Linked DNA regions of Homo sapiens. The protein of the gene in region 2 interacts with the protein of the main gene of each other region in a biochemical or structural test. Each region holds a gene or a part of one and is shown on either strand. Other genes may lie near its edges.

What was found.
Region 1: the proteins of XIRP1 (region 2) and NEBL form a complex in vitro, tested with the Homo sapiens proteins (one study listed by BioGRID and IntAct).
Region 3: the proteins of XIRP1 (region 2) and FLNC form a complex in vitro, tested with the Homo sapiens proteins (2 studies listed by BioGRID and IntAct, with this or other methods).

Annotation. Positions count from the first base shown.
Region 1 is NC_000010.11:20,824,229-20,831,334, forward strand, and holds part of NEBL (nebulette), read right to left. Parts: intron 7,079-7,106; coding exon 6,968-7,078; intron 4,407-6,967; coding exon 4,302-4,406; intron 2,312-4,301; coding exon 2,219-2,311; intron 1-2,218. UniProt on the Homo sapiens protein: Binds to actin and plays an important role in the assembly of the Z-disk. May functionally link sarcomeric actin to the desmin intermediate filaments in the heart muscle sarcomeres.
Region 2 is NC_000003.12:39,189,512-39,196,922, reverse strand, and holds the start of XIRP1 (xin actin-binding repeat-containing protein 1), read left to right. Parts: upstream 1-4,327; 5' UTR 4,328-4,477; intron 4,478-7,397; 5' UTR 7,398-7,411. UniProt on the Homo sapiens protein: Protects actin filaments from depolymerization. Required for correct cardiac intercalated disk ultrastructure via maintenance of cell-cell adhesion stability, and as a result maintains cardiac organ morphology, conductance and heart beat rhythm.
Region 3 is NC_000007.14:128,833,304-128,840,409, reverse strand, and holds part of FLNC (filamin-C), read right to left. Parts: intron 5,085-7,106; coding exon 4,836-5,084; intron 3,251-4,835; coding exon 3,153-3,250; intron 3,013-3,152; coding exon 2,862-3,012; intron 2,774-2,861; coding exon 2,655-2,773; intron 2,424-2,654; coding exon 2,346-2,423; intron 2,144-2,345; coding exon 1,981-2,143; intron 1,808-1,980; coding exon 1,607-1,807; intron 388-1,606; coding exon 250-387; intron 1-249.

The DNA.
Region 1 (7,106 bases), on a different chromosome or scaffold from region 2:
CCGTGTTGAAATTTAGTAAATATCTAAATCTACATGAAACATGTTTCAGAAATCACCTGGTAATGTTTAAAATGATTAAGGGTGAAAACCATGCAGACTGTCATAAAGAAACAGTACCTAAATATCTCAGATATCATCTATGTCTTAGTATCTGTGGATTTCATGTAAGTAACAATGCCAATATTAGTCCAGACCCAAAACAGTTAAATTGGAAGTTCACTGAGACAGGCTACCTCTAAATAAAATTCAAAAATAGTTCTTAAGACAGAGAGCTAACAGCTAAAAGGCTTGTACTCTGGAGGTGGAAAATGTCGAGATCTTTAAATGTTAGAGAATCATATCTTGGTTTGACAGATCTAGCTAATCTTAAAAGGGCAACTTTCCATTTGAATACTAAGCAGGAGTTTATGGCCCAACCTCATGCAGATACAGAACTATGCATTTATTGTTTGCTAGAAGAGGCTGTGGGATGCTAAGAGAAGAAATGATATACTGTAATACTCTGGGATTTTCCTCAGGTAAGAAGCTTAACATGATTAAAGATGAACACTTTTGTTTTTCAAAGGGACTCTAATCAAAATGGCACAGTTATTTCACTGTAGTCTATAGAATTGCACACTACAGAATATTTATAATATTAAACCACAGTACATCGATGGGTGCATTTTAAATATTATCATTGGAAAGAGAAGCAATGAATATTTTATACTTCTCTCCCAACCTAATTCATCTACCAGGCTAACACAGGCTCTCACCATGAAAGATCAGAAGAACACATTCATCCACTCTCATCCACACCTTAAGCCTAGGTCCTCCTTACACTTTATTCAAGAGACAGCTCCATGGTGCTACAGAGGTTTTATTGCACTCATATTCTGTAGACTTTTTATGCTTTTATTTTGAAGTATACTTTACTATTGCATTCTCTTACCTCTCCTACACTTTCTTCACAAACGCTGACCCACACTGATATTCTCTGGATGCTGCATAATGACCAAGTGACCCACAGATGAGTCTAATCAAGGCAATTCTGCTTGGATTACTTAAAGGGAAGGTGCTCTTTCCAAGGATAAGGTGAAAAGATAAGTCAGAGTAAGGGATTTAAAGAACGAATCCTTTTTACTTCCTCAAGAAACTAAATGTAACGGAAAGGCACAGTAGCTTATGCCTGTAATCCCAGCACTTTGGGAGGCTGAAGCGGGAGGATCACTTGAGGTCAGGTGTTTGAGACCAGCCTGGCCGACATGGTGAAACCCCATCTCTACTAAAAATAAAAACAATAAAAATAAATGGCCAGGTGTGGTGGTGTGTGCCTGTAATCCCAGCTACTCGGGAGGCTGAGACAGAAGAATCACTTGAATCTGGGAGGCAGTTGCGGTGAGCTGAGATTACGCCACTGCACTCCAGCCTAGGCAACAAAGCAAGACTCTGTCTCAAAAAAAAAAAAGAAACTCAATGTACTAAATATACATGGGAGAATATCAAATTGGTAAGGAGAGCAATTATCCACAGCAAATGTCAAACACTCAATGGAAAAAACAATTTATCCGTAATATTAAGCACCTTAATGTTAGAAGGACCCTTCCAACAGAAGAGGACCCCTCCCCCCAGTCTAAAGGTTACTGGAAGCTAAGTTATTTCACAATTTATAGTGAAGATGTGTGATTTGTTTTCGTTTCTGCTGGAAGAAGCAGAAGGTAAAACAGGCTGGAAAGAAGAAATGGGCAGAAGCGTGTCTGATAAAAAGCTTAGAGATGTGACTGACATCGGTTAAAAATGAACTGGTACTATTTGCCTTTTCAAATCTAATCCTTCACTTAAGCTGCCAAATAAATGTTCTGGGGCCTTTAATCATTGTATCAGGGAAAAATTTCTTTCTTCCAACTTGTGGAGAGGTACTGAAATGTATCCTTTCTCTGCAAAATTTAATAGAGTTAAAATTCTCTTCAAAGAGATGAAATCTAACCCTAGGTTTCATTAAAATGACCTAGCTCTTCTTCATTGTGATATATCAAAATGAAACACTGCTTCAGAGTCAAGGGGAACAAGGATACAGTTTTTGTTCTGAAAGTTAGATCTTTGATATATGATGAAATAGCATTTCAATAAAGTGAAGAATAAAAGGAAAAAAGCCATCAGTTGAGTAAAGAACTAAAAACATTTGTCTATAGTTTTGGTTTGCTTTTAGAAAAGATAATTAATGCTGTAGAGAACTTACTGAACTAATATTCTGCTGATTTTTCTTCACTCGTTCGATCTCTGGGCTATCTTTCACTGCAGTGCCAGCTCCCACTTCTTTCTTATAAAATACCTTTATTATAAGAAAAGGAAAAGAATAACTAAGCTTGTCAGAATTCAAGTCCTAGATCCGCTTCTTAGAAAGACAATTTCTCAGGTTTTATAATAATATGAATACTGCATCTATTTATGAGTGCCGGAATTATAGGAACAAATTAAATAATCCATTCAGATAATCCATGAAAACTTTGGTTTTATATCCCATAATCTCACAAATAACCCTCTCCTGCTCTAGGTCTAGACCACTACCATGGCTGACTGCAGATTATTTGCTTTAAGAATACACATTGGCAAACCAGAGTTCCTTTCTTCAAATATAAATATATGTCCCATGTGTATTTGAGAAAAAGCAGATATTACAAAAGCCCATTAAGCCGTTATCACTGAATTCAAAAAGAAAATGACATTTTAGGCAACTTCTATGCTCCAAACACAAGGATGCCCACATTCTCTTCCAAGAAAATGTTAGCTCATCATCAATATCAATGTTAATTTCAAGTCTATCTTCTTCATCTTCCACTTATTTGTTAACCCTCTCCCATGTGTCTCCACCCCTACTAACGTCTACCCTTCCAAACCCAAAGCAGAACAAAAACACAAGAGTATTTATGAGTGCCCTCGTTATGAGTACTCTGCAGAAAAACAGAGTAATTATAAGAAAGGTAAATGAGGATAGAATTACTCCCTTTCTTGACATTTGGTAATCCAGTGGCCCCCGCGTGGGTGGGAGAGCACGGTAGGAGAGATGTTTTCCTCCAAAGGCTAGAACTACAGAACACTATAGAATCACACAGCCTCTTTTCCTCATCCTTCCATCAAGACTTTCCCATTTCTCAGTACAGCCTGGCCATCCCTGTGGAGACCCAGCAGACATCTGACCAGCTTACTCTGAGAGCTGGCGCTTGCCAACTAATTAGGAGGTAGGAAATATTCCAGAAGTCCTCACACTTACTAGAATTTATATTTTGATGAGATGCTTCCTTAACTATTAATGACTGAGCTAATTCTATGTTAAAATATTAGTTGTATGGTCAATTTTTACAATTTTAGAACAGAAGTCAAGTTTATACATTTATTAATGGACTCAGCCTCTTAATTAATAGTGCTGATGCACTATTTACAATAGGAAAGACATGGAATCAACCTGAATGCCCATCAATGATAGACTGGATAAAGAAAATGTGGTACATATACACCACAGAATACCATGCAGTCATAAAAAAGAATGAGATCATGGCCTTTGCAGGGACATGGATGGAGCTAGATGCCATTATACTTAGCAAACTAATGCAGGAACAGAAAACCAAATACCGCATTTTCTCACTTATAAGTGGGAGCTAAATGATGAGAACACATGGACACACAGAGGCGAACAACACACACAGGGGCCTATCAGAGGGTGAAGAAGGAGGGGAGGGAGAGGATCAGAAAAAATAACTAATGGGTACTAGGCTTAACACCTGCGTGACAAAATAATCGTACAACAAACCCCTATGACACAAGTTTACCTATGTAAAAACCTGCACAGGTACCCCCAAACTTAAAATAAAAGTTAAAAAAAAAAGTGCTGATGCAATTCCTCTTCCTCAAAATAAAAATATAGAAGTTTAGAAATTTATTAAGAATGAGTAAATGGTTAGACATATTATCAGTAAAAACAATCAATAACCAGGAATAAAATCACTTCATATGACTATTTTCACCTTCAAAGTAAAATCTGTGTAGAAGACAGACTTCTTTCCTGAGTTAAATTTTAAAATTTAGTTAATAACTGTCATTTATACCGAAGAGGAAATTTTGAATTTGTAATTCCAAAAAAATAATGAAAAATGATAATTTGTAAAAATTATCAGTATTCTTATTATTTTAAAGAAATAAAGATAATACACTTGACAGAAAATTCAACTAAGACAGCAGAAAACATCAGACAATGAGGAAAAAAGACCATTTCTTACAAAACAAAATTTCAAGGTGGCAACTTAAAAGAAGTAATGGCTACTCACCGCACTAATGTTTTGTTGAGTTGTCTTAATTCTCTGAATTTCAGGAGTATCTGCTATGGTAGAATAGTTAGAAAGCATCTTCTCTGCTTCATCTTTATACTTTCTCTAAAAACATAAACAGTTAATATAAATCTGAAACTATGTGTGTGCGCACATGTGAGAGGGAGGGAGGGAGGCAGGAAAGGAGGAAGGGAGAGAGAGAGAGTAAAAAACTGTTTTTACTGACTTACACTCCCAGAGAGAGAGAGAGAGAGGTGGAGAGACAGAGATAGAATGATACCATTCTTCGATCTCTACCATACGACATGGCTTCTAGATTTACGCTTTGCTTCCTACTTCATGTGAAGATAGATTTGATTAAGGGAAAGTTAACAGTATTTTGAAGTTGAGATTAAAATCTTAATTTTCTCTCCACTAAATGAGCTACTATGAGCTCTAATACAACCCAGGCAATATCTTATCCTAGTACCAGCACTTACATTGTACTTACTATGTAATGGGTATTGTTCTAAATACTTAACACACACTAACTCATTTAATCAACCTGACAAGCAGATACTATTATTATTTCCATCTTACAGATGGAGAAACTGAAGTACTAGATAGTAAGTATCAGAGCCTCAACTTAAAACCAGGCTCTCTGATTCCAAAATCAGTGAAGTTAATTATTCTGGCAAACTACTTAAGAAAATGTGGCACATATACACCATGGAATACTATGCAGCCATAAAAAATGATGAGTTCATGTCCTTTGTAGGGACATGGATGAAATTGGAAATCATCATTCTCAGTAAACTATTGCAAGAACAAAAAACCAAACACTGCATATTCTCACTCATAGGTGGGAATTGAACAATGAGAACACATGGACACAGGAAGGGGAACATCACACTCTGGGGACTGTTGTGGGGTAGGGGGAGGGGGGAGGGATAGCATTAGGAGATATACCTAATGCTAGATGACGAGTTAGTGGGTGCAGCGCACCAGCATAGCACATGTATACATATGTAACTAACCTGCACATTGTACACATGTACCCTGAAACTTAAAGTATAATAATAATAAAATTAAAAAAAAAGAAAGGTAACTACTATTCATGTTGAAATGCACCAGGCTTCATTACACCCTCGTAAGTATCCCAATTGTATTTCAGTGATTAAAATCCCTTAAAATTAGATATATTCTCACACCACACTAAAAAAAAATCTATGCTGTTGAGTTAATGCAGGAAATCTGACAGCTCAGGCACCTTCACTCTCAATACTTTTACTTTCAGGTGTATATATCATGGTTGTAATACTATATTTACATGATTATTAGATTTATCTGTAGCTTTCCAAGAGCAAAGCCATGTCTAGTTTTGCCTGCAAATGGGTGCTCAGGAGGTATTTACCTACTGAAGGAATGAATTTGGCATTCTTGAGAGAGTAAGTAACTCTTCTCCACTGACTCAAATGTCTATTTGTTGTTTAATGCATTGACTTAGGATTTTAGTTAAGCTGATATGGCCAAGCCAATGTCTCCAAGTTCACGAACACTGAGAACAGAACACACACTTCAGGATCATCCCAGCGGCTGTGTCGGCTGCGGAGGCTGAGAGGCACACAAGTCCTCTGACATTTGACTCTGCCATCTTGATACTACCCTTTTGAACTAGTGGATGGTTAATGTCCTTGCTTATGTCTTAATCAGAATTTTAACAAATTTCACCAAATGTTGTTACACAATCCTTTCTGCATAAACTCCATTAATCAAATTAAATGCTATGGTCAATTTTAAATAACCATTTTCATTTTTTTCATTCCTTCTATTTTTTTCCATTGGGAGTCATTCTTTTTTAGTAAATGTTACAGCAAAGATATTATTTGCTAATGAATGTTTTTGCCCAAGTCAGATTTTATAAATAAATTCTTCTTCCATAAATTTTTGTGGTCACTACTTCTCCCACATCCAGCTTTGTTTACAGAATATGGGACAAGTATATTTGACAAATCTAAATTTTACCAAGAAAACCTCACTGTTCCCTTAATTTTTACCTAACACTAAACTTCACTTTATACCTTGTGCAGCTTTAGCCACTGTTAGCTTTATTTGGAACTATTTTAATATTAATATTCATTATGAAATGGTTAAAAGACAAAACGTTTGTAATTTATTTTTCTGTAGTATTAGCAAAAGCATTTGAGCCAAGTGTCCAATAGGGTCAAAAAAAAAAAAAGAAAGAAAGAAAAGGTTAAAATATCCTTGGGCTGGGCACAATGGCTCATGCCCACTGAGGCAGGAAGATAAGCTTGAGCCCAGGAGTTTGAGGCTGCAGCAAGCTATGATGGTGCCACTGCATTCCAGCCTGGGTGAAAGAGTGAGACCTCCATCTCTAAAATTTAAAAAAAAAAAAAAAAAAAAAAAGGTTTAATGTCCTTGGACTCAAAACAAGGAGCCCCGACAGAGAGGCTGTAGCTCTCCATAATGTCTGTTGCATTGAATCTATGACTGTTGTCCTATTAATTAGTACGGTTAATCAAGTTTGGCCAATGGTTTCTTAGTGAAAGAGTACACTAGCTCTGAATGCAATGCCCTCAGAAAGATATCATTCATAGAGACATACAAAGCACATGGCAACATGACATTGGAATACACGATTCTGAGCATCTTCATTCATGACCAACCTGGCTATAGATTTCAGATGTCCTCTTGGCTCGAAGGATATCTGGGATATCCATGCTCACTTGCATTCCTTTCCCTTTAATTTCATTTTCTAAGTCCTTCTTGTATTGTTTCTAAAAGAACAGAAAATAATCTTAGAGC
Region 2 (7,411 bases):
CCTGCAGGCTTGGAACAGAGCCAGCCTGGCTGCCCAAGCTGTCCTCCTGGCACCAGTGCCTGCTTCCCAGCCAGCAGGAAGCCAGGACTGCCAGCCAGTGCCAGGGTAGCCAGGAGTTGCACAGCTATTAAGTGTCACAGGTAGGATTCAGCCTCAAGCAGTCTGGCTCCTATCATTCTCGAATCCTGTCTCTCCTGAAACTTGAAGTGAGTCAACTGCCAGCTACTTACTCGGCTCCTTCATGATTTATGCGTGAATTTCTGCCCAAACCCAACTTTGATGGAGCCCTACTTGGAGGGAGGGGCTGGTAGGAGATGATGCCCTGGACCCTAAAAACCAGTAGGCTCCCAAAGAGAGGACTGCGATAGCTGGAAGGGAACCACCCTTCCCTCATACCCCCTCCCCGAGCACCTCTCTGCCTGTTGGCAAAGATCAGCTGTTCAACCTCAGGATATTTATTTATTTCCAGCCTCGTTCCCAAAATGATTTGAGAGAGCTTAAAGAAATAGATGCACAGTATCTCCACTGTTAAAAAAATGGAGCTCAGACCTGAAGCATCCCTGAGCAGGCAAAACAAGTTAGGTCTCGTAAGGGACCTTACCCTTGCTTGATTTGCAGACATGCAAAACTGGAGCTCTTCCTTTCTTCTTTCCTTCCTTCCTTCCTTCCTTTTTCTTTCTTTTTCCTTCCTTCCTTTCTTCCTTTTCCTTCCTTCCTTCCTTCTTTCCTTCCTTCTTTCTTTTTTCTTTTCTTTTCTTTTTTTTGAGACAGGATCTCACTTTGCCACCTAGCCTGGAATGCAGTGGCATAATCACGGCTCACTGCAGCCTCCACCTTTCTGGCTTAAGCGATTCTCCCACTTCAGCCTCCCAAGTAGCTGGGACAACAATTGCATGCCACCACACTCAGCTAATATTTTCTTTTATTTTTTGTAGAGATGAGGTCTCGCTATGTTGCCCAAGCTGGTCTCCAACTCCTGGGCTCAAGTGATCCTCCCACCTCAGCCTCCCAAAGTGCTCAGATTACAGGTGTGAGTCACCATGCCTGCCTTTGAGCTATTTCTTGTAAATGCCTATATTAAAGAAAAATAAAACTTAAGTGCAACTAATGAGAAGCAGCCAGCACAAATAATTATATAACCAGGGACTTTCCAATGGGATAGATCAAATAAGGCAACTGTATAACTGTAACCAATCAAATATTATATTTGCTTTACTTCTGTATCTGTCTTATAAAAACCTCCCGCTTGTGCTCCCTCAGTAGAGTTCCCAAGCCACTTCTGGTTTGGGACTGCCTGATTCAAAAATTGTTGTTTGCACAAATAAACTCTTAAAAAATTTATTGTGCCTCAGTTTACCTTCTTAATACCACTAAAGATACTCCAGTAAATAATGCCTAGTTTACTATCTTGACAGCCTCATAATTAATACCATGATGATGTGATATCATTAGATCATTACACATAGAGTGACTAGCTTGTCCTGGTTTTGTTAGAACTTTTCCAGTTTTAAAACTGAACATCCCTTGTCTTGCAAAACTCCTCAGAGACAGACAACAAAAAGTTGGTCACCCTCATTACACAGGATTTGGACCATAAAGTCTACTTGCTAGGTTAAAAATTTAGCTCTGAGTTTCCTAGCAGCCAAGTCAAAGAGAAACACCATATGTCATAAAAATTGTTTATTCTATTGACAATTCTCCTTCCAGAAAAATTTATTTTCTTATTTATTTTAACATCTATAACAGCACTATCCGTAGAACTTTCTGAAATAATGCAAACATTCTGCACTATTCAATATAATAGTTTCAGGCTGGGTGCGGTGGCTCATGCCTGTAATCCCAGCACTTTGGGAGGCGGAGGCAGGTGGATCACCTGAGGTCAGGAGTTTGAGACCAGCCTGGGCAACATGGTGAAACCCCATCTCTACTAAAAATACAAAAATTAGCTGGGCACGGTGGCACACACCTGTAATCCCAGCTACTCGGGTGGCTAAGGCAGTAGAATCGCTTGAACCCGGGAGGTGGAGGTTGCAGTGAGCCGAGATCGCGCCACTGCACTCCAGCCTGGGCGACAGAGCGAAACTCCGTCTCAAAAACAAACAAGCAAACAAAATCAATATAATAGTTGCTAGCCACTTGTCTCTATGGAGCACTTCAAATATGGCTAGTGTAGTGAAATAACTGAGTTTTTATTTTATTTCATTTTAATGTACTTAAATTTAAATAGCCTCATTTGGCTAGTGGCAACTCTATTGGACAGCACAGCTGTACTAGATACAAAGAAACCAAGTGCTCAGGAAGAGCCTCTTTCCTAATATTGAGGCCTGAGGAATTTCTCCCATGAGTTATCACAGGAGGTGAGTACAAAAGTGAGTTCCACCTAGGGGCTTTTCTCTTTTTATATTATATACAGTATAATAGCTGGCTCTTCTAAAGCATAGGCTATGTGCTAAGTACTCTCAGGCACTTTTTTTTTTTTTTGAGACAGAGTCTTGCTCTATCGCCCAGGCTGGAGTGCAGGGGTGCGATCCCAGCTCACTGCATCTTCTGCCTCCCAGATTCAATTTTCCTGCCTCAGCCTCCCAAGTAGTTGGGATTACAGGTGTGTGCCACCACACCCAGCTAATTTTTTATATTTTTAGTAGAGACAAGGTTTCACCATGTTGGTCAGGCTGGTCTCGAACTCCTGACCTCAAGTGATCCACCAGCCTCAGCCTGCCGAAATGTGCTGAGATTACAGGCGTGAGCCACCGTGCCTGGCTGGAGGCACTCTTTTCATATAATAATTCCTTCAATTCTCAAAACTATCCTAGAAAGTAAGAAATTTCAGTACCCACAGGGAGAAAGCTCCTCCCAGGAGAAATCCTGAGAAACCTAAGGCTGCCCTTTCCCTGAAACACTGGTACATCGGTCTCCCTGCCCTTCCTAGAGAGAGCCAGGAGCCTGGGGGACAGGCAGAGGGCTAGAAAAGAGCAGGGGAAGAGACAAGAGGGAGGGAGACCAGGAAGAGGGGGTTCCCAGATGTCCTTACCCCCATCCCAGCTGACGCTGCAGGACTGACATTGACTACATGGAAAAAGTGAGCAATGTCTGGCATCACCCCCTGGTACCAGAGGGCATTTGGGGAGTCAGAAGGAAGACCTCATGTGCCAGGCCACAGAATGCACCTGCATACCCACAGGCATGGAGCCTGGGCCAGGCCCACCTAGGACAAAACACCTCTTTCGAGTTTTTTGCAGATGGTCCCCTGACATCCTTCACCACACTGGTCTGACTGCCAGGATCTCTTGGGCCTCCTGGGCCCCTCACGCCCTGGTAAGCAAAGGAGGAGGCAGGTGTGACCCCCCCACCCCCGCCGCCACTCCATCTGTGACTGGGAAGCTGATGACTCCAGGGTCAGAAATAACCCCACGGTCAGCTCCCTGCATGCCGCCCTTCCCCTCCCCTCCATTCCCAGAAAGCCTGGGCCCTGAGTCAGAGGGAAGAGTCGAGAAGAAAGGACTCAGATAATCTGGAATGAAAACCATAGAGTCCTGCTGTGGAATTCATTCATTGGGAGGCCGAGGCAGGTGGATTACCTGAGGTCAGGAGTTCGAGACCAGCCTGGCCAACATGGTGAAACCCCATCTCTACTAAAAATACAAAAATTAACTGGGTGTAGTGGTGCAAAGGAGGAGCTGGGCCTGGCCAATCTCGGCCCAGTGAAGAGCTGGGCCTGGTCATTCAGATGTCTTCCCCCCAAATCCAGCTTCATCGGGGCTGTGTTGACCTGTGCTGTGGGGCACAGGGTGGAATGGATAAGAAAGAAGGAACTCTTTAGTGCAGAAGGGAATGGGGAAGAAAGAGAGCTGAGCATCACACTCAGAGGTATCCAGGCTCAGAACAGAGGAGGAGGTGCCCAGCCTGCCCTCAGGAGACCTCCAGTCTCCTGGCACGGTGGGTGGAGACACGTCAGGAAGAGTCAGAGGCAGGGCCAGAGTAGAATGATGGGGGCTCACAAGACGGGAGCAAGCTGTCCAAGGTGTCAGATGCCTCTTCTTAGTCACTCTCTCAAAATAGTCTGGGACACCCCCAACCTCACAACCCAGCTGAGTCACTGACCCCAATCCCCAGATCAGACTTTGGATGAATGAAGCTTCTCCCCCTCTGTTTCCCCTCCCCAGCCCAAAGGACATGTAACTGATTCCCCAGGATGGAAGAGTGACTTCCACAAGACCTAAAAATAACCGAACCACTTAATACTCGGAACATAGCCTCTCCCACCCGCCCCCACCACGGCCCACCCACTAGCCAGCAAGATAAAGGCAGCTGCTGGGGCTGGCAGGGGACAGAGACCTGGAGCCAGGGCAGCAAGAAGGTGTCTGTTGGAGCCAGCAGAACAGAACCAATTTGAACAAGAACCTCCAGAGGAACGACGAACCCTGAGACCACAGCTGCTACAGACCACAAACACCCCATCAGCCAAGAGAGACCCTTGGTGAGTAACCTACCTCTCCATCCTTCCACAGCAAGGCTGGCTTTCACAGCTGGGATCCCCTCTCCTTCTGAAATGGACGTATTAGGAATGGCTCTGAGTAGGGGAAGGAGATTGAGGGGCATGCATGGGAGGAGGTGAGTGGAAGTCTCAGACATAAAGAACCCACAAAGGAGGTAAAGACAGTGTGAGCCCCATGGGAGCTCTCAGAGTGGCTGCCACAGGCCTGAAGCTAGCAGAAAGGATAGGCTCCTGCCAGGCTGGCATGATCCAGAAAGGCCTGGAGTTGTGATTTTTAAAATACAGGTATGGAGTGCCTCAGGCTTCAGGGCTTCCTCCCAGGGAAGCTTCAGGCAGGCCCAGGATCTGGAGGAAGGAGGAACAGGAGAGAGGTGGGGGCAGGGGGCTGTAAGTAGGCCTGAGTGTGCATTGCTAGAACAAGCCCCATGCCTAGTTGTTGTGGATGACACTCTTGGCATATCTGGCCCAGGGATAGCTCCCAGGGGCTGGCCGGAGCCCAGCTCCCTACATATCATAGCCTAAAACCTGGGGTGGAATTCGGACTCTGCCCATGTCCATAGTCTTGCCCAGTGGGAAAGCCCCCAGGGCAGATTTGGGGGGCTCACGGGAGGGAGACCAGATCTGAATTTGCCCAGATGTAAAGACATATGGAGCCAGCTGGGCCAAGGAGGAGGTGACCCGAGGACAGCAGGGGGACCATCCTGAGAGGCTGGCCCAGCCCTAGGAGACCAAGCTCTAGGACAGTTCTTGGGGCTCACCCCACGTAAGTCTGGTCCCAGTTATGAATTCTGTCCTGACTCTACACTTGTCCCAGCAGTCTCAAGCCAGGCAAAGATGGTGGTGGGAAGGCCAGGAGTCAGGAGACATGCTTCAGGCTTTGCTACTGCCTTGCTGAGCCTCCTTGGACAGCTCCTTTCCCCTCTTTGGGCCTCTGTTTCCCTATTTGAACAATAAGGGGTTTAGATTGAGTGACCTCTGAGGGTCCTTAGGCCTGACATCCCTGGACTCCATGATAATAACTGTCTGTGGCCTTAGCAGAGATTCTGGAAATTCCTGGGGGCGGGGGTGGGGTGAAGCTGATGGTGTGCACACACCATCTGCTCAGGCCACCCTGGTGGTGACAGGATGGAGTAGAGGTGGAGACAGGCTCAGGTTTGCCTTGGGCAGGGGATCCTCATTGGAGCTCAGAAATGAAAGAAAACCACCCAGAGCTTTGATGAGACTCAGGCTGCAGGTTTCAGAGCTCACATTCCCCAAAGGTTCTGATGTCTTTGGTGGACATGCCAGGGTGGGCATGGGGTCAGCAGGTCTCAGTTTCCTCTCTCCTCCTTCTGAGGTAGCCATAGGGAGGAAGTCCTGCCCCACTTACTTCCAGTACCTCCCCCCAGTGCAGACTCCTTTGGCCAGGGAAGGTGTCCAGGTTCTAGCACCTGGCTGGCCTGCAGCCCAGGGGCCTGACACCAGCCCAGGAGGCAGGATAGGGGAGCCCAGGCTAATGAAGGAGATGAGGTGAGCCAAGGGTACTGAGGGTCCCCACTGGCTGGGCCTCAGCCTCCCTCTGAGCCCAGGGCTGCTGTTCTGAGGCCAGGACCTCAGCTATATTTAGCACCCTGTGTGGTGCAGAGCAGTGGGTCAGGGGCAGCAGGAGGGGGCACGTGCTTCCCATTCTTTCCCTACTGGCCTCTGGGGACTGTTAGTACACCTGTCACAAGAGAGATAAGACATACATGGACAGAGACCAGAGAAGGGCTTGAGGGGTGGTAGGTCATTGAGGGGCGGGGGTGTAGCCGGGGAGAGGCTGAGCTGGGGTGGCCATGAGGCCTGCAGGGGTAGGGCTTAGCCTGAAGCCCCCCTGAGTCCGAGCCCCTGAAGCTGTGCTTGCTTGCTTAGAGAGCGGTATCCAGGAGCAAGAGGCAGGGCTGTCTCTGCAGAAAGGACCCTGATCCCATGGTCCTCTCCCTGGTTGTTGTCACCCTCATATCCTCCCAGGGGTGCCTGCTGGGGAATAGACGGGTTCTATGGCCAATAAGAAAGCTTTACACCTGCTACCCTCTTATTTCTTGGGGCCATGCCCTAAATGGAGTCTAGGGACCCCAAGCCAGCACGGCCTTCCATTTATTCACCAAGATCTGACTCTGGGCCTAAGTTCCCTCATCTTTATTTATAAATGATTGTGCTAAAAGACCTTTGAGATCCCCCTAGCTCAGACATTCTCAGTCTTCGAGTATAATGCAGAAAACCCTGACCAGATATTCAGAATTTGGATCTGGCCTAAGCACGAGATATCTGATGAGCAGCTTCCCAGCCCTGATTCTCAACTGCTTCCGCTCTAGCATGGGCTGTTGGCCTCTGCTTGCCTCCTTGGGCCTGGGAAAGGTTGGAGTGCGTTGACAGCCAAGAGGTAAAAGTTAGGCAGCGTTCCAGGTCAACATGGCAAGTCTGCCCTCTGGTGTTCTGCAAAGGAATCTCGTCTCCATAGGAAATCAGTCACCAGTTTAGAGACCTGCCTCTCCAAGGCTGGGACTCCAAAAGTCAGGATTCCCCCAGGCCACTCCCCTGGCAGTCTTCCAGGGAAACACTGATTTTTAACAAAGGAAGGTGAGGATGGGGCATGTCCAGTTTGCCCACTGGAGGTTTATGCGTCCCTTATGGAGCTAAAGGAAAGTGTCTCATGTCCAGTGGTACCATGGTCACTCCCTAGCAACGCATGAGATGTAGGGAAAGCAGGAACCCACTATGATTAATGGGTCCATGTCCTAAGTTCAAGACCTGTTGCCCACGAACCATGCAGGCAGCGAAGTGAAGCCCAGGCCAGGCACATAGAGAGAGGGAAGGAGTCTCTAAGCGTAAGTCACCCAGAGCTACTCTGACTCTGAGCCCTGTTTACTACCATTTCTCCCAGCATCCAGCCTCTAC
Region 3 (7,106 bases), on a different chromosome or scaffold from region 2:
GCAGGGAACACTTGTCATCCCTGTGCATAACACCCCGTATAGCACTTAGGGTGGAGAGAATCATTCCTGGCTTGTAGACCAAGAAACTGAGGCAGAGAGGAGACAATGAGCCTGAGATTCTGGGGTGCCTCTGGTCACTGTGGAGCTGTGGTGCTGGCTGTCACTGCCCTCTGGGAGTCAGAACCACTGGCCATACTTCCCTTATGATCCCCCAGCCCCACCCTCACGACCCTGGGCTCTGGCACTCACTTGGCCCCTTGACCGTGACCTTGAGCTCCCCGCTGCCGGCACCCTTGGTAAACACCTTGAAGTCAGCCACCTCTTTCACGCGAACACCCTTGGGCTGCAGGCCTCGCCCAGAGGCGCGGCAGGCGTTGGGGTTACAGGCTAGGGGAGGAAGAGAAAGGAGGTTGGGGGTGCTGAGGGGCCTTGGACCACTAGCCCCCACCTCCCTGTGCACAGTCCTTCTAACCCCTCCCAGGCACAGGCAGTGGCCCACGGCCCTGCTCTGGAGCCCTTTGTGTCCCCAGCACAACCGGGGCTGCCGGGCTGGAGCTGGCTACAGGCCCCAGATCAGGCAGGTTACAAGAAAGTTTCCGAGCCAGTGCCACTGGGGAAATGCATGGCAGAGCCTGGGCTGAGAGTGGGCTCAGAGAGACAGGGAAGGCCCCTTTACCCAGCCCAAGGCCATCCATCTAGAGCCCTCTGGGCCTCTCAGGGCACCAAAGCAACCTTAGGATCTAAGTCATGCCACAAAACATCCAGCAATGCCACAGAACAAGGGCTACTTCATAGAACTCGAAGCCTGCCATACAACACAGGCAACGTGTGGACATCAGCCTACCACAGACCGTGGCCAGTGGCAATGAGCCCAGGCCTTGCTATGGAACACAGGCAAAGGAATGGGAATCTCAGCCTGCCACAGAATCCAGAAAAATGGCATGGGACCCACAGGTGCTACGAAACAGGACACGACACATATTCCAGGACTACCATGACCATAGGCGATGGCACTGCCCAAGGGGTACCACGGAACACAGGCAATGGCTCAGAGCCCAGATTTCATCATAGAAATCACCAGGCAAGTGGCAAAGACACTAGACCTGCCACAGAACACAGACAACGGCATGGAACCTGGGGCCTGCCACAGAATGCCAAGGAAGGGGGGGCGATTCCACACGGCCCGGGCCATGCCACACAGCACAGGTGAGGCCAGTCAGCTGCGGCCATGCCTGGCCCCGCCTCCACTGGAGAGCATTAATGTGGCATCACTCTCGGCCTGGTGGACGATGGGCACTGAGTGCAGGGAGAGAACAAGTGGGGCAGTCACCACCTGAGGGCTTGGCATGCAGGCAGTACTCCCTAGATATGCCCCCACCCATACAGCCCCGTCACTTCCGCTCAGCCCTCCCAGGGTGGCACATGTTCTGGGACCCTTCACTGTGGCCTCCCAGCTGTGCTCTTAGGAACTCCAGCCACCTTGGGGGTGGGATGGAGGACTCAGGGAGGGGGTCTCTGCAGACCCCCGCCCCAGCTCTTCCTCCTGCCCCTTGCAAGCCTCTGGCTTTGGTAAGGGCTACCGTGGGGAGCAGTGAAGGGCCCTTACCTTCCGACACATGGACAGGGAAGGGACTGCGGGTGATGGGGGCACCCGCAAAGGCCACATGCACGGTATGTGGCCCCTCCATGGCAGGTCTGTATGTGCAGCGGAACGTGCTGTCACCCTTGTCCTCCAGGGCCACCTCCACTGTGTCCCGCCGGCCCTGTGGGTCCACGATCACCACAGCAACATCGCCAGTGCCGGCCCCTGCCGAAAACAGAGGCTGTCAGCACCACTCTGGACACACACAGCTGCCCCGGTGCCCTCACCCTGAGGCTGCCCACCCTCTGGCTGGCATCCCTGTCCCAGCCTCCCCCCACCCCCACACAGCCCCACATGGTCAGGGGCTTTCCACCTGCACCCCCTGGGGCCCGTCCTACCCGCAGTGTAGATGTCAAAGTAGGTGGGTTTGTTGGCCACATTGCCCACAGGTTCCAGGCCAGGGCCACGGGCTGACACCTTGTTGGCATCTCCCAGGGCCATGCCCACGTTCACCTCAAAGGGACTGCGTTCAATGTTCTGGCCAGCAAAGAGCACGGTCACCTAGGGGTCAGAGGTCAAAGGTTAGCTTCTAGGGGAGAGCAGTCCTGAGAGGGGGCAGAGGGGCACAGCCAGGCCAAGGAGGGTGAGAGGCGGGCAGCTGGGGCTCTGGGCAGGCGCGAGGTACAGGCTGAGAGAGGGGTCCATGCAGCCGGAACCAAGGATGTGAAGAGCAGCGCAGGCAGGGGGGCCTAGAGGGAGATACCTTGTGTAACCCAGCGACCTTGGGCACATAGGAGACAGCATAGGTGCGATCCTTGTCATTGTTGGGAACCACCTTAGCCTATTAGGAAGGAAAAAGATTGGAAGCCTCTCCAATGACCATAGCCCCTCCTGACCCCACAGTGCCTTATGCACCCCAGCCCCACTCAGCCCCCATGGTGACACCTTCCCCAGACTGCACAGCACAGTGTGTGGCTCTGGCAGTCACCTCCGGGCCATTCCTGTTGTTGGCCCCACGCTCTCTGGTTCCAATCCCAAGTGAATCCCTCTGTCCCCAGCGGCCTCTGCATACCTCCTCGGTGTGGCCTTCAGGGTCCTCGATGTAGACCAGCACCTCGCCCACGCCCGCGTCCACCGTCTGCACGGTGAAGTGGGCAGGCTGCAGCACGGTGTTGCCCTGTGGCTCGATGCCTACGGGGCAGGAGCAGAGCCCAGGTTACTCAGGGAGAGCCTACATGTGCCCAGCTGCCCAGGAGGGCCGCCAGGGGCTCACACATACCAGGCCCATAGGCGATGGCTTTCTTGGGGTTCAGCTGCTTGGATCGAACAGGGGCACCAGGTTTGAGCTTGGCCTTGGGGAACTGGGACAGGTAGGTCATAACAGAATGCTCATCCACGTTGGGGTCCACAATCTCCTCAGGGGCAATGACCTGCGATGGAAAGGAGTGATGTCACATGGCGCCCTCTTTTCCCAGCAGCCCCAGTCTCCCCCTGCACCCTGGCCAGGTAAACTTACAGACCCAACCTCTGCCCCTGCCCCCTTTCCCCCCTGCCCCATCTGCGCATGTACCTGGGGCACCCCAAGCCAGTCGTCGGCCTGCTGCATGGCCTCCCGGGCGTTCTCCACGGGCTGGTTGGGGTCCCAGGCCTCCCAGTCGGGGCAGAGACCTGGAGAGGTGATGGAGGGAGACGATGGTGAGGGGCAGCCAGCCGGCCAGGATGCAGGGCATTTGTTCACCCAACACCCTCAGAGGCTGTGGCTTTACACCCCTTCCCACCAGCTCTAGGCCTTGACCAGCCAGGTTCCTGCTGACCCCATCAGCTTCGAGGCCCCTCACCACGTAGGAGCAGGACAGCCCTCTCCACCACCAACAATGAAGCCTTTCTGCCCTGGCTGACGCAGCCTGGCACCAGCCCTGCTGGCCGGCCTCCTGCCTGCCCAGGCCCCAGCTCAGACCTTGAACCCCAAACCCTGGGAGGGTACCCCCTCTCGCTATCTCTTGCCTCATTCAGCTTTCTCAGGGGTGGGCAGAGGAGGTCAGAGTGCCTGTCCCACATATGCCCCTGACCCATCCCCCCTAGAAGGCCTCCTCACAGCTGCCCCGAAGCTCTAGAACTCCAAACGCTTTCCACACCAGTCTTAGGGTATGAGACTCCCTATTCCTTCTAACTGCTCACTTGGGGAAACTGAGGCATTAAAGGGCCTGTGAGGAGAGAATGACTTCTCCTCTGCAGCCCTCAGGAGCCCTGCCTTCCTAACAGGAAGGACGCTGAGGCAGCCCCAGATCACTCCTATGAACGGTGCAGGTGAAGGGGCGCTTGGTTTAGGCCAGAGCTGGAGGAGGGGGACGGCACACCGTTTCGGGGAGGGGGCCGGCTCAAGGCTGGAATCCATGACTGGCTGGAACAGCTGAGCTCACTGCTGGCAGCCACACCAGTTATGGGCCATGGCTCAGCAGCTGGGAATGCTTCCCAGGAGGCTGTGCCCCCGCCTCCCACCCTCTGCTCCCCGGCTGACCCCAGGGTGGAGGAGGATTCTCCCGAGGGGCTGTGACTCCTGGAGAAAACCTATCTTTTCAGGAGATGAGGGGCAGAAAGGGAGCTGTCCATGGGGTACGCTCTAGCCAGTGATGCCTCAGCTTTTTTCATGGCCCCTGAGCTGTCCCCACTTGACCAGGCCAGGACCTACACGGAGAAGGGGCAAGGCTGGCTCACCTGCCACCAGGCAGTGCCCCACTGGCCTCATCCCACATCATCCTGAGCCTCAACCCCTTCTCAAAGTCATCCCAGGGTCTCCCAGAGAAGAGCCTTCTCTGGATCTAACTCCTGGTCTTGCTACAAGTCCTGGTCACCACACTGCCTCTCTCTCAGCTCGGCAGGAATAGTGCCTCGTGGCACAGTAAAAAATTCATGGGGCAGGGAGTCCAGGCCCTGGGCTCTAGGTGGTTCTGCCACAGATAAGCTGTGTGATCTTGGATAAGTCACCAGCCCTCTCTGGGCCATAGTGTCCTTGTCTGTAAAATGAGGGGTTTTAAACCTCTTCCTGCCTCTGCGGAATCTGGCACACTCATCAGGTAGGGCCTGCCACCAGCCAGCGGAGAGCCACAGCTGGAGGAGGACAAACCCTGCAGGGGATCCTGGCCCCCAGGCCCCAGGGTGTGCATTCTGACAACCACACGCCTTGGCAGCCCCAGCTTGTCCCCTCTGTCTTTGGGAGCTAAGGGCTCCATGCTGTGCTCACTGGCCCACTCACCGGGGGCGCAGTTGTCCACCAGGGCGCCCAGAGCTTTGCCGTCCTGCCAGTCACGGTTGAAGTTGGTGATGGGCAGCTGGGGCACCTTGTTCTGGATCCAGCCAAGCAGCCGCTGCTTGGGCGTCTGTTTGCGGGCATCCTCATCATCTTCATCCTCCCACATGGGCATGGAGATGGAGTAGTGCAGGATCAGCGTCCAGATCAGGCCCAGGATCAGCTTCAGGTTCCCATCCACGATGGCCTTGCTGTCTGCAGAGGGGAGGGCACAGACGGGCTCAGGGGCGCCCCACCCTCCACTGCCCCAGAGCACCCTCCCTCACCTGCGCAGCTCCTCGGGCCAGAGCTCTGGGGTCAGGCCTCTAGTCTCTGCCTACCTGACCCTCTCCCTCCTGCGAGGCCCCACTCAGATGCCAAGTTCTTTATGGGGCCCTTCCGGTCAGAAGGCTGCTTCTCTGTGTTCCTGTGGTTCTGGAAGGTACCCTCACCTCAGCTACAGCAAGTGAGTCTGCCTCCTGTCTATGTAATTACCTGGTTTCTTTCTGGCCTTGTGGGATTGTAAGGCTCCCAGGGCAGAGCCTTTTTGTTTTGTTAACAGTTCTACTGAGCTATGATTGACATACAGCAAACTGCACATGCTAGAGAATGAAGTTTGAGAAGCTTTGACACTATGGATATATCACGAAGCCGTCACCACAGATGGAGAATAACGAAGGTACCATCCATCACTCCCCAAAGTTTCCTTGCACACACCCCTTTGTGAGCCCTCCCTCCTGCCGTCCTTGTCCCTCCATCCCAAGCAACAACTGATCTGCTCTCTGTCACGATAGATTACTTTGTATTTCCTAGAGTGTTATATAAATGGAATCACACAGTATATACTCTCTTTTTTTTTGGTCTGGTTTTTTTCACTCTAGACACTAGGTTTTATCTTTCTACAATGAAGGTCTTAAACATAGTAAGGTCTCAATAAATATTGGTTGAATGAATATTTTAAGAACTGAAATTGGAGTGGGGTAGGACAAGTTTCCACTCACACTCTACCCCGAATGCCAGAAAGGGCTTTAGAAACCAAGGGGTTCTGATAGTGGGGCAGGGGTGGGTGGGTGGGGTCCAGTACATTCTCAGTTAAGTCTTGAAAGTCATGTTGTCAAAGGCTGGGGGCCAGAGGGACTCCAGCCTCAGGAGCTGACACACTCCACCCATCACCTCCTTTGAGGAATCCTTTGAGCCAGAACTGGTTCCTCAAGATTTGGGGGGGGGGGGCGCCTAGATCCCCCTTAACAATCAGAAAGAAATATCCAGAAGCCTGGGGTGGCCTAGCATGTAGATAGATCTTTGGAATTCAGCTTACTTGTAAAGGGCAATGAAGTTCTGAAATCTATCAGCTTCCCAAAGCACTGCTTTCAGGAGGCTGGAAGGGGGTGGAAGACAGTCTTGTTTACTGATGTTGCCCGAGAGATGGGAGAGGGTGGAGTGGAGCCTTCCCCTTACACATCTTCTCCCCTCCACCCTTCCCCAGGTCTTGGGGAAAGTGTTAGGAGACCGAGAGCCTGGGAAATCCAGGGCATCCCCTGCCCCACTCCCACCTGCCCCGGGAGGGGTGCCTCAGTCTCCCTGTCCCTCTGGCTGGGGCTCTGGCCGCCTGGGCTCCCCCACCCTGTCACTGATTCATCCTTCCTTCCCCAGCAGCTCCCCAGCCCACCCCCTTCCCCTGGCTCCACTGCAGCACAATGGTTTGGCAGCTTTCAGATTCCATGACACACTCACTCCCTGCCTCCCGGTGCTTTCTCTCAAACACACAGGCTCCAACACTTTCACACAGTCTGGATGCCCCAGTGCCCCCAGCCTCTCACAACCCCGACAGCCTCCAAAGCTCACACGCCCAGAAGTACTTCTTGCAAACTGGAGCCAGACCCCTGGGCAGGAAGCCTTGAGGCTGCAGGGGTTGGGGGGGGCGGTGTGTATATGGGGAGGGTGGTCATTCATATTTGCTGGAGAGGGAAGTTTCTCCCCAGCAACTGGCCCTGGGCCAGACAGCAAGTGGTCCAGGCTTGGGGCAGGAGAAGGGCAGTGGGGCCCCAAGTCCCACTCTGGAAGCAATGACCTCCCTCTCCCTCCTCCCTCTCGGAGGCCAGGCAGAGGAGAGGAGCTCAGCGCCACCAGGGCTCACCAAGCCACTTCTCCATCTGCCTAGGGATACCCCCAAAGGAGTGGGAGGAGCCAGACAGCTAGTTCCCGAGGCCACCCCAGGCCTCAAATGGAGGGGGAGGA